Homo sapiens: one gene and its partners. The protein of the gene in region 1 interacts with the protein of each later gene in a biochemical or structural test. Each region holds a gene or a part of one and is shown on either strand. Other genes may lie near its edges.

Evidence for each region.
Region 2: the proteins of STX12 (region 1) and SNAP23 form a complex in vitro, tested with the Homo sapiens proteins (one study listed by BioGRID).
Region 3: the proteins of STX12 (region 1) and EEA1 form a complex in vitro, tested with the Homo sapiens proteins (one study listed by BioGRID).
Region 4: the proteins of STX12 (region 1) and NAPA form a complex in vitro, tested with the Homo sapiens proteins (one study listed by BioGRID).

What each region holds. Positions count from the first base shown.
Region 1 is NC_000001.11:27,779,580-27,783,648, forward strand, and holds part of STX12 (syntaxin-12), read left to right. Parts: intron 1-4,069. UniProt on the Homo sapiens protein: SNARE promoting fusion of transport vesicles with target membranes. Together with SNARE STX6, promotes movement of vesicles from endosomes to the cell membrane, and may therefore function in the endocytic recycling pathway.
Region 2 is NC_000015.10:42,501,984-42,506,052, forward strand, and holds part of SNAP23 (synaptosomal-associated protein 23), read left to right. Parts: intron 1-4,069. UniProt on the Homo sapiens protein: Essential component of the high affinity receptor for the general membrane fusion machinery and an important regulator of transport vesicle docking and fusion.
Region 3 is NC_000012.12:92,849,205-92,853,273, forward strand, and holds part of EEA1 (early endosome antigen 1), read right to left. Parts: intron 3,822-4,069; coding exon 3,708-3,821; intron 3,093-3,707; coding exon 2,971-3,092; intron 2,063-2,970; coding exon 1,907-2,062; intron 1-1,906. UniProt on the Homo sapiens protein: Binds phospholipid vesicles containing phosphatidylinositol 3-phosphate and participates in endosomal trafficking.
Region 4 is NC_000019.10:47,504,639-47,508,707, reverse strand, and holds part of NAPA (alpha-soluble NSF attachment protein), read left to right. Parts: intron 1-4,069. UniProt on the Homo sapiens protein: Required for vesicular transport between the endoplasmic reticulum and the Golgi apparatus. Together with GNA12 promotes CDH5 localization to plasma membrane.

The DNA of each region.
Region 1 (4,069 bases):
CCTCGGCCTCCGAAAGTGCTGGGATTACAGGCATGAGCCACCGTGCCTGGCCTGAATCAGATCTTAATATTTCACCTTGCTTTCACTCCCTGCGATCTTAACCCAAATTAGCCATATTTTCTACTCTTCCTTACTCTTTGCTAGGAAGGCTATTTTCTTTATGTTTCTCAACTCTATCTTTCAGTTTATATTTTGCTCATTTGGTTCCTCCTTTTTTTTTTTAGAGAAAGAGAGTTTCGCTGTTGTTAACAGCCCAGGCTGCAATGCAGTGGTGCGATCTCGGCTCACCACAACCTCTGCCTCCCAGGTTCAAGCGATCCTCCAGCCTCAGCCTCCCGAGTAGCTGGGATTACAGGCGTGTACCACCACGCCCGGCTAATTTTGTATTTTTAGTAGACACAGGGTTTCTCCATGTTGGTCAGGCTAGTCTTGAACTCCTGACCTCAGGTGATCCGCCCGCCTTGGCCTCCCAAAGTGCTGGGATTACAAGCATGAGTCACTGCGTCCGCCCTTTGGTTCCTCCTTTTTTTAGTATCTTTTCTCTCCCTACCTCATTGGCTATCTAAATTATACAAATCCTCTCAGTTGTGCATAAGTCCTGCTGATAGCAATTAAGTTTTTCTTTGCTTGTTTTTTTTTTTTTTTTTTGAGACGGAGTCTTGCTCTGTTTCCCAGGCTGGAGTGCAGTGGGGCGATCAGGCTCATTGCAACTTCCGCCTCCCAGATTCAAGCAATTCTCCTGCCTCAGCCTCCCCAGTAGCTGGGATTACAGGCGTGCACCACATGCCCGACTAATTTTTGTATTTTTAGTAGAGACAGGGTTTCACCATGTTGGCCAGGCTGGTCTTGAACTCCTGACCTCAGGTGATCTGCCTGCCTTGCCCTCCCAGAGTGCTGGGATTACAGGCGCCCAGCCTTCCTTTGCTTTTGAAAGACAAAGTGAAGTCAGAAAGATCATGGACTCTCCGGGGTCAGCAGATCTGTGACTGAATCCCTCCCCTTCCATGTATTAACCTCGAGCAGGTTATTTTCCCTGCCGTGTGTAACCCCATTTATAAAATGAGTGAAATTATTAAAAGGGGATGTTTGAGGCTGGGCACAGTGGCTCACACCTGTAATCCCAGCACTTGGGGAGGCTGAGGCGAGTGGATCTCTTGAGCTCAGAAATTTGAGACCAGCCTGGGCAACTTGGCGAAACCCTGGCTCTACCAAAAATACAAAAATTAGCTGGGTGTGGTGGCACACACCTGTAGTCCCAGCTACTTGGGAGGCTGAGATGGGCAAATCGCTGATCGCTTGAGCCTGGGAAGCAGAGGTAGCAGTGAGCCGAGATCACGTCACTGCACTCCAGTCTGGGTGACAGAGTGAGACCCTGTCTCAAAAAAAAAAAGGGGGGATGTTTGAAAGTGTCTGGTATACTGCCTGCCTGGCACATAGCAGGCGTTCAATAAATGGTGACATTATTATTATTTTTATTATTTTGAGATGGAGTCTTGCTCTGTCACTCAGGCTGGAGTACAGTGGCGCAATCTCAGCTCACTGCAACCTCTGCCTCCCGGGGTTAAGCAATTCTCATGCCTCAGCCTCCTGAGTAGCTGGGATTACAGGCTCATGCCACCACGCCCAGCTAATTTTTGTATTTTTAGTAGAGACAGGGTTTCACCATGTTGACCAAGCTGGTCTCGAACTCCTGACGTCAGGCGATTTGCCCACTGCAGCCTCCCAAAGTGCTGGGATTATAGGTGTGAGCCACCACGACCAGCCCCAGTGGTGACATTATTAATACTTGTTGAATCCCTTGCCCTGCAATAGTTTAATAGTTAGGTAGGCAGGCTCAGGAGTCATATTGCCAGGATTTGAATCCTAGATCTGCTTCTTACTAGCTGTGTAAACACATTGCTTTACCTATTTCTCAGTTTCCTTATTGTTAAAATGGAGTTAATAATACCTATTTCATAGGGTTGTGATGATTAAATGAGATAATTCATCTACAGTCCCTGCTACATAGTAAGTGCTTAAGAAATGTTAGCTCTCATTTTGGTGTATTTCCTTTGAATTTATAATACAAGCAATTTTCCCTCACAGTTTAGCACGCACTTATATTATATATTCTTTAATTAATTCAAGCTTTTTGATATTGTCACCCCAAGCAGAGAGATCACTGTTAGTTTTGTGGAGACCATGCATTATACATTTGTCTTTAGTCACAGTGCCTGGAACAACAATGCATATATAGTTGGCATTCAATATGTACTTAATTGATTTTATTACTGCTAAGTACATTTTTCTTGGTCTTGAGTTTGATAATAATAGCTATCTTTAATTGAGTGCTTTTATGTGCCATTGTTCTAAATTTAGCTTCGTATCATCTCATTTCATCCTCACAACAACCATATGAAGATTCTCTTATTCTCATTTTTAAGGCAAAGAAACTAAGGCATAGAGGAGTGGAGCCTTTTACTCAAGATCACTTTGCTTGGAAGTAGCGGGACCACGACAAGCATAGGCATAAGCAGTGGTTTTTTGTTTTTTGTTGTTTTGAGAAAGGGTCTTGCTCTGTCACCCAGGATGTGCCAGTAGTACAGTGGTACCGTCATAGGTCACTGCAACCTTGAACTCAAGGGATCCCCCCACCTCCACCTTCCGAGTAGCTAGGACTACAGGCACGCACCACCACGTCCAAGTAATTTTTTAATTTTTTGTAGAGACGGGCTCACTTTGTTGCCCAGGCTGGTGTCAAACTCCTGGGTTCAAGTGATCCTCCCACCTTGGCCTCCCAAAGTGCTGGGGTTACAAACTTGAACCACCATGCCTGGCCATATAGGCGGTCTTAATTCAGAGCTATGCTCTTAACCATTGCATATTCTGAAACTGGTATGGTTAAAGGAAAATTATACCTTTGATATTTAGTATCCATTTTCACTTTAGTCTAGAACTTTACTGTTATGGTACAGTGGCTATTTTTTAAAGTCAGGTTGATGGACACGGTGACTCACACCTGTAATTCCAGCACTTTGGGAGGGCAGGGTGGGCAGATCGCCTCAGGTCAGGAGTTCGAGACCAGCCTCGCTAACATGGTGAAACCCTGTTTACTAAAAATATACAAATTAGCCCGGCATGGTGGTGGGCACCTGTAATCCCAGCTACTTGGGAAGCTGAGACAGGAGAATCACTTGAACCCAGGAGGTGGAGGTTGCAGTGAGCTGAGACCGTGCCATTGCACTCCAACCTGGGCAAAGAGAGCAAAGCTCTGTCTCAAAAAAATGAAACATTTTTTAAAAAAGGTAATTTTCATTGTAGTGATATAAAAACAGAATGTAAACCTAATTTTCAGAGTAAAACACTGAGATGACTTCATTTTCATAATCACCACATAGGCTATCATTTTCTCATTTGGTGTAAATAATGTTTTTTTGTTGTTGAATTTGTTTAAAATACTGACTTAGAGCATTCGATCCTGTCAAATGAAGAGAAATCTTTTTCCCACCTCTGATGATAGTTACTTTCAATATAATTTGACTTTGATTTGACTTTGCTTTGGATGAAGGTTCATTTGGAGATTCAGATTCTGCCGATATCAGCTTAAAGTACAAAAAGAATTTTCAGTTTAGAGTAGTTCCTAGTGTGGATGTTAGCTGTAATGTATAACAAATTGATTTGCTTCATACTCTTTTAAAAGTTTTAGCCAGGATATGCTTTTTTAAAATGAGAGGTCAGCGATAGGAGAAATTGAGTCCTAGTTGTTTGTTTTTTGTTTTTGTTTTTGTTTTTTTGAGATGGAGTCGCGCTCTGTTGCCGAGGCTGGAGTGCAGTGGCACGATCTCAGCTTACTGCAACCTCCGCTCCCGGGTTCAAGCAATTCTTCTGCCTCAGCCTTCTGAGTAGCTGAGACTATAGGCATGTGCCATCATGCCTGGCTAATTTTTGTATTTTTAGTAGAGATGGGGTTTCTCCATGTTGGCCAGCCTTGTCTCAAAACTCCTGACCTCAGGTGATCCACCCACCTTGGCCTACCATAGTGCTGGGATTACAGGTGTGAGCCACCACGCCCAGCTGAGTCCTAGTTTTA
Region 2 (4,069 bases), on another chromosome or scaffold:
TTGGGGGTATCCTTTCCAGGGACGTGAGTGCTTATATTCTCTCTTTTTTTTTTTTTTTTTTTGAGACGGAGTCTCGCTCTGTCGCCTAGGCTGGAGTGCAGTGGCGCGATCTTGGCTGACTGCAAGCTCTGCCTCCCAGGTTCACGCCATTCTCCTGCCTCAGCCTCCTGAGTAGCTGGGACTACAGGCGCCCACTACCACGCCCGGCTAATTTTCTGTTTTTTAGTAGAGACGGTTTCACCTTGTTAGCCAGGATGGTCTCGATCTCCTGACCTCGTGATCCGCCTGCCTCAGCCTCCCAAAGTGCTGGGATTACAGGCATGAGCCACTGCGCCCGGCAGAGTGCTTATATTCGCTGTCTGTAGCTTCTGACTCTTAATATCGGAATATTTGAAAAACTAACCAGAAAGCATCAAAGTGGCTGGGTGTGGTGTCTCACGCCTTCTGGCATTTTGGGAGTCCAAGACAGAAGGATTGCTTGAGGCCAGGAGTTCAAGACCAGCCTGGGCAACATAGTGAGCCACCCTATATCTACCTAAATAAATAAATAAATAAATAAAGCATCTAAGTGAACTTAATCAGAGCTAAACTATGTGGATGGTTTCGGTGAATATTTCATTCAGGCAGGGTGAATCCTTGCCAATTAATCTCACCCCGTACTTGGTATCTCCCTGGCAGATACCACACTTATGCCTGCCACATTGTCTCTTCCTGGGTAGATTGCCAGCTTCTGGCTCTTGAGCCCCGTTCTTATCTTTCACATAGAACGTCCCCTTTCTGTTCACATAACCATTCTCATTGATAGGGTTAATAAAATTGATTACAATCAAACCTACATCTACCTCCCCAGTATTACTCCTGGGTCACTTAGAGTAGAATTGTGGAAGTTCCTAATTTGACAGGGACTTGAAGACCAGGCGTTGGACATCAAGCAATTAAGTTACCATAGGTGCTTCTGTAAAACTGAAGTTTAATTTTTTTTGTAATTAGAGTCAGGGTCTTGCTATGTTGCCCAGGTTACATTTAAACTCCTGGGCTCAGGTGATCCTCCTGCCTCAGCTTCCTGAGTAGCTGGGACTATAGGCCTGAAAATGTAATTTTGGTTTTCTTTTTGGTTCCTGATTTTTAGTGGGACTTTCCCATTTGTTAATATGATTTCTGTCTTGAATCTTGTGCTTCAGTGTACTTTGAAACCAAGCTGATTTTTGTTTGTTTTGTTTTTTCGTGTTGTTTTTTAAGATGGAGTCTCGCTCTGTCGCTGAGGCTGGAGTGCAGCGGTGCGATCTCGGCTAACTGCAACCTCCGCCTCCCGGGTTCAAGTGATTCTCCTGCCTTAGCCTCCTGAGTAGCTGGGATTACAGGTGCCCGCCACCACGCCTGGCTAATTTTTTTTTTTTTTTTTTTGAGATGGTGTCTCACTCCGTTGCCCAGGCTGGAGTACAGTGGCACAATCTCGACTCACTGCAACCTCTGCCTCCTGGGTTCAAGTGATTTTCCTGCCTCAGCCTCCCAAGTAGCTAGGATTACAGGCACATGCCACCACGCCCAGCTAATTTTTGTATTTTTAGTAGAGACGGGGTTTTGCCGTGTTGGCCAGGCTGGTCTCGAACCCATGACCTCAAGTGATCTGCCCTCCTCAGCCTCCCAAAGTGCTAGGATTACAGGCGTGAGCCACCATACCCGGCCTTTGGTATTTTTTAGTAGAGACGGGGTTTTTCCATGTTGGCCAGTCTGGTCTCAAACTCCTGACCTCAGGTGATCCACCCACCTTGGCCTCCCAAAGTGCTGGGATTACAAATGTGAGCCACTGCGCCTGGCCTGAAACCAAGCTGTTTAGTAGATACGATTCTGTGATGTACTTAGTATATTTGCATTTGAGTTATAGACTTTGTATGGTAAAAAGAAAAGAGTTTTTAAAAAGAGAAAAAAATATGTATGTATATTTGCATAGTTTTGGGGCCTATATATAAAAATGGTTAAAGTTGTTTGTGTAGAAGGAGATAGAAAGGAAAGCCCAGAGAGGAAGTAAAAGGAGGAAGCCATCCTTAACATAAAGGAGACCCTTGCCAGGCAAAGTGGCTCATACATGTAATCCCAGCACTTTGGGAGGCTGAGCCAGGAGCATCACTTGAGGCCAGGAGTTTGAGACCAGCCTGGGCAACATAGTGAGACCCTGCCTCTACAAAAAAAAAAATAATAATATAATAAAAGGGCCAGGTGTAGTGGTGGGCACCTGTAATCCCAGCTACTCGGGAGACTGGGGAAGGAGAATCACTTGAACCCTGGGGCAGAGGTTGCAGTGACCTAAGATTGCACCACTGCACTCCAGCCTGGGCAACAGAGCGAGACTCCGTCTCAAATAAAATAAAGTAAAATAAAATAAAATAAAAAGTGAGACTCTGTCTCAAAAAAAAAGTTGTATATAGCCTATACTTTATATCATCAACTTTAATATTCAAATTTAGCCTTGCAGATGGAACTATTAATATTTAGTAGCTATTACTTTCAGCTACATTTACATAAATGTGACTCATATTCAACATTGTTACTTTCCTTTTGTTTTGCCTACTATTTATTTCCACTTCAGTAAAAATATTAATATAATGGCTAACATTGAACACCGGCCATGTGCAAGGCATTGTACTAAGTACTTTGTGTAGATCATCTCTTTTTAATCTTCACAAAAAAAACAAAACTATAAAATAGAATGTTATCCTTGTTTTACAAATACAGAAACCGAGTTTTAGTGGTGTTAGGTAATTAACTTGGGGTCACACAACAAATACATTGTGAGGCTGGAATTTATATGCTGGAATTCCCACTCACCCACTATGCTATCCTGCTATAAACAGAAGTTTCCTCTTGCTGCGGATGCATTGGTTACCATGGACGTAGACTTCTATCAAGCCAAAGAGAATGCTGAACTTAAAAGTACAGTAATAAACCCTTTGAGTGTAACTCATTGAGGAGCTTTATTGTGATTAATTTTCAGAGAAGGAATAAGGCAGGAAACTAATTTGGTAGAATATTTTAGCTGCAAAATCCTTGTTTACCAGTATAAAAAGAATTATCTTATAAAATCATTCTTTGCAAGACCCTGTGAAATTGATGGTGATTTTTTTTTTCTTTTTTTTTCAGACAGTCTTGCTCTGTTGCCCAGGCTGGAGTGCAGTGAGTCTTGGCTCACTGCAGCCTCTGCCTCCCAGGCTCAAGCCACAGACGTGCACTACTGCACTCGGCTAATTTTTGTGTTTTCTTTTTAGTAGAGCTGGGGTTTCACCGTATTGGGCAGTCTGGTCTTGAACTACTGGCCTCAAGTGATCCGCCCACCTCTGCCTCCCACAGTGCTGGGATTACAGGCATGAGCCACCACGCCTGGCCTGATGGTGATTTAAAGTGCTCTTTCTTCATTACTTCTTGAGTAGCTCACCAGTTTTACAAATGAAGCCACATGGATCTTCCAAGGCCTTATTTAAATTCCAGGGCCTTTTTTCTGTGTATTTCTTTCCAAGAAGCTCATTTACTTTTCCTTTCTTCTTTTCTTCTCTTTTCTTTTACTTCCTTTCTGCTTGCATTTTTTTTTTTTTTTTTTGAGACGGAGTCTTGCTGTTGCCCAGGCTGAAGTACAGTGGCATGATCTCGGCTCACTGCGACCTTTGCCTCTCGGGTTCAATCAACTCTCCTGTCTCAGCCTCCTGAGTAGCTGGGATTATAGGTGTGCATCACCACGCCTGGCTAATTTTTGTATTTTTAGTAGAGACGGGGTTTCACCATGTTGGCCAGGCTGGTCTTGAACTCCTGACCTTAGGTGATCTGCCCACCTTGGCCTTCCAGAGTGCTGGGATTACAGGCGTGAGCCACCGCACCTGGCCTCTTGCTTGCTTGTTTTCTTATCTCCTCCCTTCCTCCCTCCCTCCCTTCCATTTCTTTTCCTTCTTTCTTTTCTTTTCTTTTTTTTTCTTTCTTTTTTATTTTTTTTGAGACAGAGTCTTGCTCTTGTCACTCAGGCTGGAGTGTAGTGGCATGATCTCGACTAACTGCAACCACTCCCTCCCGGGTTCAAACGATT
Region 3 (4,069 bases), on another chromosome or scaffold:
TTTATTTTAAAATTTCAAATAGCATTTAAGATATTTTTTAATCAAAAGGGAGTGTATTTTTTTTTAATTTGAGAAATACCAATAGGCAGACATATCTAAACAAAAATAGTTCTTACTGATACAAAGAAATAAATGACTGGGTTCACCCTGGTTTAGGTATTTTGACATTAACATCTGAATAGCACTTTTCCTCATGAGACTTCTTTGATTCAGCCTCTCCTTGATTTCACATTTGTACTTATAGATTTATCATTGTCTTCTGCTGATTAATAATACCAGTAGGACAAGAGCTTTTAACTGGCTTCAGTAAGTTCATGAACCACCTGAAATTGTTTGAAAATTTTTGGAATTAAGTGTTATTGGGCTACAAAGTGTCAATTTTGGAAAAACTGCATCCAAATATCATAAGTTAGAGAGTGTAGTGTTAGGCATCATAAGGCCTTACATGCCTATGTGTGTTATATCCACAAACTTTCACCATCTCTTCCCATAAGATAAAGAAAGATTTTTAAAAATGAATTAGACATGGGTTATCTATAATACTTATACCCCAAAGCTTGATGACATGTTATATTTGTGAATAGAGTGGCTTTTAGATCACCAGTTACAAAACTCTAAGGAAGAGATTCAAATTAAAATGTTACGGTAACAACTTTTTAAACTGAAAATATGAAAATCAGAGGTCTACTTTACATAAGGGAGCTTAAAGACTACAAATAACAGTAGTCATAACAAAATGTCTCCTATAATAAAGTAAAAAGGACAAAGGCTAGGATTTTTAAGCACATTTATGTATTATACATCTTAGAGTTTATTAAATGCTGACATATTATACAAGGGATTTACAGGCCAAAGTCATGTCATGTAAGAAATAGTAGAAGAACTGAAAATGTTTATCTTGGAAGAGAAATACTCCGAATAAATATGAGCAGTCTTCAAATACCTCATGTGGAAAGAGGAACAATTTATTCTGTGTAATTCCTAAGGACAGAACCAGAACCAGCGCATGTAAATTACAGGGAAACAAATGTCAGCTCAATAAAATAGACTTAGGAAGAAATATGCACACCGTACACCACCTAGCAAGGATTGTGGATCACTTAGCAGGGTTGGCATAAAGGGAAGTTCTGGACTGAATTTAGACTAGTTCAAGACTTCTTTCAAATTCATAATTCAAAGTCCATCAATTAGAAATAAGCTTATGGCCGGGTGCAGTGGCTCACGCCTGTAATCCCAACACTTTGGGAAGCCAAGACAGGCAGACCGTCTGAGGTCAGGAGTTCGAGACCAGCCTGGCCAACATGGTGAAGCCCCATCTCTACTAAAAATACAAAAATTAGCCAAGCGTGGTGGCAGGCACCTGTAATCCCAGCTACTTGGGAGGCTGAGGCAGAAGAATCACTTGAACCCGGGAGGTGGATGTTGCAGTGAGCTGAGATCACGCCACTGCACTCCAGCCTGGGTGACAGAGCAAGACTTTGTCTCAAAAAAAAAAAAAAAAAAAAAAAAAAAGAAATAAGCTTATTACAAAATAAGCCTTTCTTAAATATATTTTCTAAACAAAATTGGTAATATAATTGTAGAAAATGCTATCATTCTTCCTTTAAAGTCAATTACCATTTATCAACCAACCTTGAGTAAATTTAACCTTAAATATCATGTCAACAATATATATATTAAACAGAATAATAATCTTTATGCAAATATTCCTGAGTGTCTAGCTTTATAAAGCAAAACATACTGAGAGACCACATTGACTATAAACAAATATTATTCAGATCAAAAATGAAAGAAAGACAAATATTTTGATAGGCCACTCAGAAAAATCTCAAATCCTGGCTTCACTCAATAGTATACACTACACAAGCTAATATGAATCACATTTAAGTACAATGAACTTCATTACCTCTGAGCTAGCATATTGTGACTGCAATTTTTTGCATTCATCTTTGAGTTTTTCAGATTCTCGCTCACGTTCCAAGGTCATGTTATCCATTAGTGTTTGAACTTGGACCAGTTCTTTCTTTAGCACGGCAACATCTTCTATACCAGGTCTCTGAAGCTGTGAAACAACACATTTTAATTAAAAATTAAAGTGAAAAACTAAAATAATACACATTTTTAGAATCATTTCACTACAAAGGAATCAAAAGGGAAACAATCATCAATATCAATTTTTAGACTTCAAACATTGAACACTGATATCTTCTCCCACAATAAGCCACTTCCTCTTCCCATCCTACCTCATATTTAATAGTATTAATACTCAAGGTGCTGTATAGTAAATTCACAATTATCTTTACTACTTTATTTGTTTTCCTTCCCTTCACAAACTACATCTATTGGTCATAACAGTGACTTGAAAATGCTACATTCCTTCTTTTTCTATCCTACAAAACTGGTAATAAAAATGAAGGAGCAAATGAAAGCATAGAGTTTGCTCCAGGTTGGATGTAGTTAATTTATATATTTATTGAGAGCTAAATAAAGGAAAGAAAGTCAAGGACAGATCCAAGATTATTAAGTCTTGGGAGAGTATTAGAGATGTATGGTTCCAATAACAGAAATACAGTAATGAGGAAACATGATTACTTTGATTTTATACTTGTTGAATTTGAAATTAAAGCTAGAAATTCAACACAAAGTACCCTAAAAGCAGATGGATTTATAAAACAAACATGCAAGAGAAGACCAGGATCAGAGATGCAGATATGAAAACTACTAAAATGACAGATGATATTTAGATAGAAACAACAAAAATGTTAAGGTAGTAAGTTACGTATCATAACATTCCATTTTTATTTTAAAAATCATATACAGAATATATATGCAGGTGGTAGAATATAGGGAATTGCTTATTTCCTGATTTCACTCAAATTATATTTTTAAACATTTTCCTTCAGGGTATGTATTTTATTTTTAATTTAGAAAGGTATAAGAGTACATCTCAATAAATAATTCCTAAATTACCAGTTCCGTCTTCAGATCTTGAATTACAGTTGCCTCTTTGTTTAATTCTTCTGTCAGACGTGTCACTTTTTGTTCAGCAGCTTCTCGAAGACTCCTTTCTTCATCATACTTTGACTTTATATCTAATTAAAGATAGTTATATAAATATTAGTTTAAGGGGAGGACAGTTTTATAAGTTTCCATATATTACTCTGCATATCTGTATATCACTCTAATTCAAATTCACATTCCTTAGATAACCATAAATATATACAGTAAATTTATACTTCTAATTACATGAAATGAACTTAAAATTAACTGTCTACATAAATTCCACTCAACATTAAGTTAATAATTAGCATTTTAATGTACTTAATCACATATTTTACCTAAAAGCACATGTTAAAAACATATATATGTAATAGTATAACCAAGTGTTACATTTATACTACATTATTTACTTCACTTCTTTAAAATGTTCCTTTTTAATCTTTAAGCATGCCACAGAAGAAAATGTATCTTCTCTAAATTTCAAGAAGAATCTACAAAGAAACACCAGTCCTTTGAAGGCAGGCAGCTAGAGGACAAACAAAATAATTTACATAGCAACTCTGAAATCATTAAATTCCATTAATCACCATTGGAAGTCTATCACAAATGCTTTAACACACTAAAATACTATATTTATTGCTAGGGTATATAATGGCAAAAAGGTAATGAGATTGATTTATTGGCTAAAAAATTCTAACTCAATTTACCTGCAATTTCAGTAGCAAGTTGGGCTGCTTTCTGTTCAAATAAGTCTTTCATTTGCTTAATATTAAAATTTTCTGTTTGGGCTTCTTCTAATTGCTGTTCCAAAGACTGTAGTTCTACAAAAAAGTGTCGCAGTTATTCAAATACCATGTTAATTACATATGCTAAATTGTTATTACTTATATTTATTACAGTTGTAAAGATGATCAACTTAAGTTTATTATCCAATTACAAGTAGTATTTTGACACTTCAAGAAATTAAGTATATCTGCTTCACTTAAGGTACAAATCATAATTTACAAACATACACTACAAATGAAATGAATATTTAGAATCACTGCTAAATAATCTATAAATATTTTAT
Region 4 (4,069 bases), on another chromosome or scaffold:
AACACAGGGAGACCCCATCTCTTATTTAAAAAAAAAAAGCCTCAGGGATAACTAGCCCCAGGTCGAACACTTAGCAAAGTACCTGAAACGGACTTCAGCCCAGGTCTCGCCACCCCAAAGTCATTCTCTTTCTACCCCTTGTCTTTGCCCAGACAGGCATGTCACAAGAGGGTCCTGTGGCGATTTCAGAGCTGGGCAGTTAGCCTGTGACACTTTATTCTTTCACCGTTGTTAACTGGGGCTTGTGGAGAGATGGGAAAGCAGAGCTGGGCTCAGGCCCCGCCCTGCAGGAACTCATACTCTGCTTGGTCAGGCAAGGCCCACTGCAGAGTGGCGGGAGGCAGCTGGTGGTTTCCCGCTTCCAGGTGATACTGGTGGCGGTGCCTTCAGGATGCTGAGCCTCTGGCAGCTCCCAGCTCCAGTGCAGTCAGTGGACTAGCAGGGCTGGTGGCCCCCGGCTCCCTGTGCCAGGGTGGACCCTGCACCACAGGCAGCCTTAACTTTTTCTGACGTTCCTTCTGCCTGTTGGCTTGTTACTGGCAGGCTCGGTAGGGGGCTGGCTTAATTCATACTCCTTTGCCTAGAGGATGCTCCACGCAGCCCCAGCAGAGAGCAGCCTCTGCTCGTGAGATGAGGGAAGCCTAGGCAGTACAGGCTCCCTGGCTTCTTTAATCTAGAGGAGGGGTGGGGGCAGGCAGGGACCTTGTCCTCCCTCCTTATTTTCCCAAGGAGCCTTGGGCATGGGGAAGGAAGCCTTCCTGATCACTGAGTGAGAGGCAAGGGCAGGACTGGATCCCCAGGGCCCCAGTCCTCTTTCCAAGCCCTGCTGCTTCCTGGCAGGGTAAGCTTGGACAAGCCCTCCGCCCTCTCTGAGCCCCAGCTTCCTCGCCTGTAAAGCAAGGGCAGCACCCAAAGGGCTCTCGTGAGGAGCTGTGGGCTCCTTCCAGGGGAGTGCCTGGGAGGCAGGGAACGCCATGCGCCAGCCGTGATTAAGGCACATGGTCTCGAGAGCCGTGCAGGAGGTGGGCTTACAGGGAAGACACAGGCATGTGACGGGCCCTAGGACACCTTCCCCACTGAGGGTGCTGACTGGAGACTTGGGGCAGTGGGCCTTAAGTCTGAGGAGGAAACCGTAGGCCTGTGGCTGTGGCTTCCACAGAGGCAAGAGAGATAGAGTGAGTCCAGGACCCGAAATGGGGGCCTGACTTTGTCCACCCTGCCTCGTGAGGTCCTTCGGGAGCTGCAGGTGGTGGGTCTCAGGGCATGGTGTATTTCTGGCAGCCAGGAAGTGCCTGGTGGATGGAGGAAGGAAGGAGGGGGCTAAGACTCTGCCCTGCACAACCCCCTGGCCCAGGTCCCATCAGGCATCTGTGTATTCCTGGCAGTGCCCAGCCTTCCATATGGCAGTCCCTGAGGTTGGTGGCTGTGTTTGGGAGACCTGAGACTCCTTCCTCCGCCTTGGAGGGGGAGAGAGCAAAGCTGAGCGGGTAATTATAGACAGCCCTGCATCAGGCAGCCCAAACCAGTTCCCTCTATTCCCGGAGTGGCTCAGAGCCGTGGGATGGGAGGAGTGAAGCAGAGGCAGCTTGGGGGAGGTCAGTGGGGGAGGGACAGTCAGCTGTCACATGCGCTGCCACCCAGGCCCTCAGGAGAGGAGGCCCAGCTAGATTTTCCTTTCGTGTACTGTTGTTATCTCCTGGCACGTAATAAATGCTCGGATACCTGTTCCCCAGGTGAATAAATGTGTATGTGAATGGCTTCTTCAGGATCTTCCACTGGAACCTAGGCACGTCACTTTCCCCCTTTGGGGACTTCACTCCCATTTCTAAAAGAAGAGGATGGGACCCTGGAGATCTCCTGTCATCCCCTGGCCATGGTAATGGGCAAGACCGCGGGGTGCAGGGGAAGAAGGAGGCAAGCCTGGGGCCTGAGCAGGTGTTAATCCCTCTGGCCTTTCCACCCCACAGAATCATTGACCCCGTGCAGGGTTGGCTGTGCTTAGCCTGGGATCACAGAGTTTCAGCCCGGGCAGCTGGTAGGCTTTGTGTCCGTCCTGAAATAAACCCGGCTGGGCTGACTCTGCTCATTGTTGATTGCCCGCTGTGGGCCACTCAGTGACGTGGGTCATTTCTGCCCATCCAGGGTCTGTGCTTTTTCAGAGAGTGCATGGAGCTGGATAGGACTTAGTCACACTCAAAAAGAAGGGAAGGCTGAGCTGGGGGACCTGTGGGGTGGGCAGACCTGTGATTAAGGTCTGAAAATGTCCCTTTAAGAGAACATTCCAGAGAAGGTCCTTCTGAGGGTTTTTTGCAGCCAGGCCCCAAAGGACCCTTCAGGATTCTCAGCCAGAAGGTTTTGAAAGTTTCTTACCTCTCCAAGGCCAGGAATGGGTTCTAAAGAAGTCATTCCAGGCTGGGCACGGTGGCTCATGCCTGTAATCCCAGCACTTTGGGAGGCCGAGGCGAGTGGACCACTTGAGGTCAGGAGTTCGAGACCAGCCTGGCCAACGTGGTGAAACCCTGTCTCTACTAATAATACAAAAATTAGTAGGGTGTGATGGCACACATCTGTAATCCCAGCTACTCAGGAGGCTGAGGCAGGAGAATTGCTTGAACCCGGGAGTTGGAGGTTGCAGTAAGCTGAGATCGTGCCACTGTACTCCAGCCTGGGCGACAAGAGCGAAACTCCATCTCAAAAAAAAAAAAAAAAAAAAGAAGTCACTCCAAACAAGGCCCAAGGTGTGTTGGGCTGGCTGAGGTGAGGTGGGTGAGGGAAGACAGAGTGCAGCAGGGCGAGTGCGGGAAGAACACATTGCTCAGGGCCACTTCCCAGGGACAGCAGAGGGTGGGGGACAGCATCAGCACAGCCCCAGAAGGCAGAGGGTAGGCTTTTCATCTGGCAAGATGACAGAGAGGATAGGAATAAATAGATTATTTACCTGGTGTGATGTGGATTCAGGAGGCCAGGATCCCTGGCCCAACCAGCCCGCCCACCGTGGGGGCATTTATTTGCCTGCTGACATTGCCAGGCCTGGCCGCTGATCTGATCGCTGGTGGCTGCTTTCCAGGTAGTCGGTCTCAGTCAATTTTTCCTTCTCAAACTCACCTGATCAGCTGAATTACCTGGGCCCCCCAAACCCCAATTGTTAAAAATCTCATTTGCAGGCCCCATCCAGACCCTACTGAGCGAATCCCAAAGTGTGTGGCTGTGGGACTCTGGTTTGATGAAATGAGCACTTCATGTGGCTGAAAGGGATGGGCAGGTTGGACACACTGAATCCGCAGTGCAGAGGGAAGGAATGCTCACATCCCAGCTCCCAAAATTACCTTTGAGCCCCTCCACAGCTGGGGTTGGTGTGGACAAGTTCCCAGGTATAATGTTGGGCCAGTTGACACAGGGTGTGGGATGGGATGGTGAGGATGATTTGAATGGGAAAGTACCCACTCCTCCCTTTTCTCTTCCTTAAAAATAAACTAAACACTAGTTATGCCAGTGAAGAGAGGCCCTGAAATCCATTTGGTGGGACTCCAGAGTGTGTGGATTTTATTCTACTGATTATGTAGATATTGGGAGTTTGAGCAGTTACAGAGACTACAGACCTCGCGGGCTAAGCCTGGTTGTATTATTAAGGGCAGAAGAATGCAGTGGGACTTACGGGTTTGAGGTACTAATGAGGTCCCCCAAGTCAAGAGGAGGCTCATTATGTACATGTGGAGGTCAAGAAGCCAGAGTGAAGCTGCCCAAACAGGGTACCCTTTATGTTTTCAAATTCCTGTCTATCTCCCAGTGTATCCCTACTGTTGGACAATAAGTTTTTGGGGGGTTTTGCTGTTTTAAATAATGCTATGCTGAACATCCTTGTAACTTTTCTGATTAGTTTTTTTAGGATAAATTGCTAGAGATGTAATTCATTGCTGGACCACAGGGCCAAATATAAATCCTAATACTTAAAAATATGTGTGTGTGTGTGTCTGTGTATGTGTAAATGTATAGATATATACACACATATATACACATACACATATATACACATGTGTATATATGTACACGTGTGTGTATATATGTATAT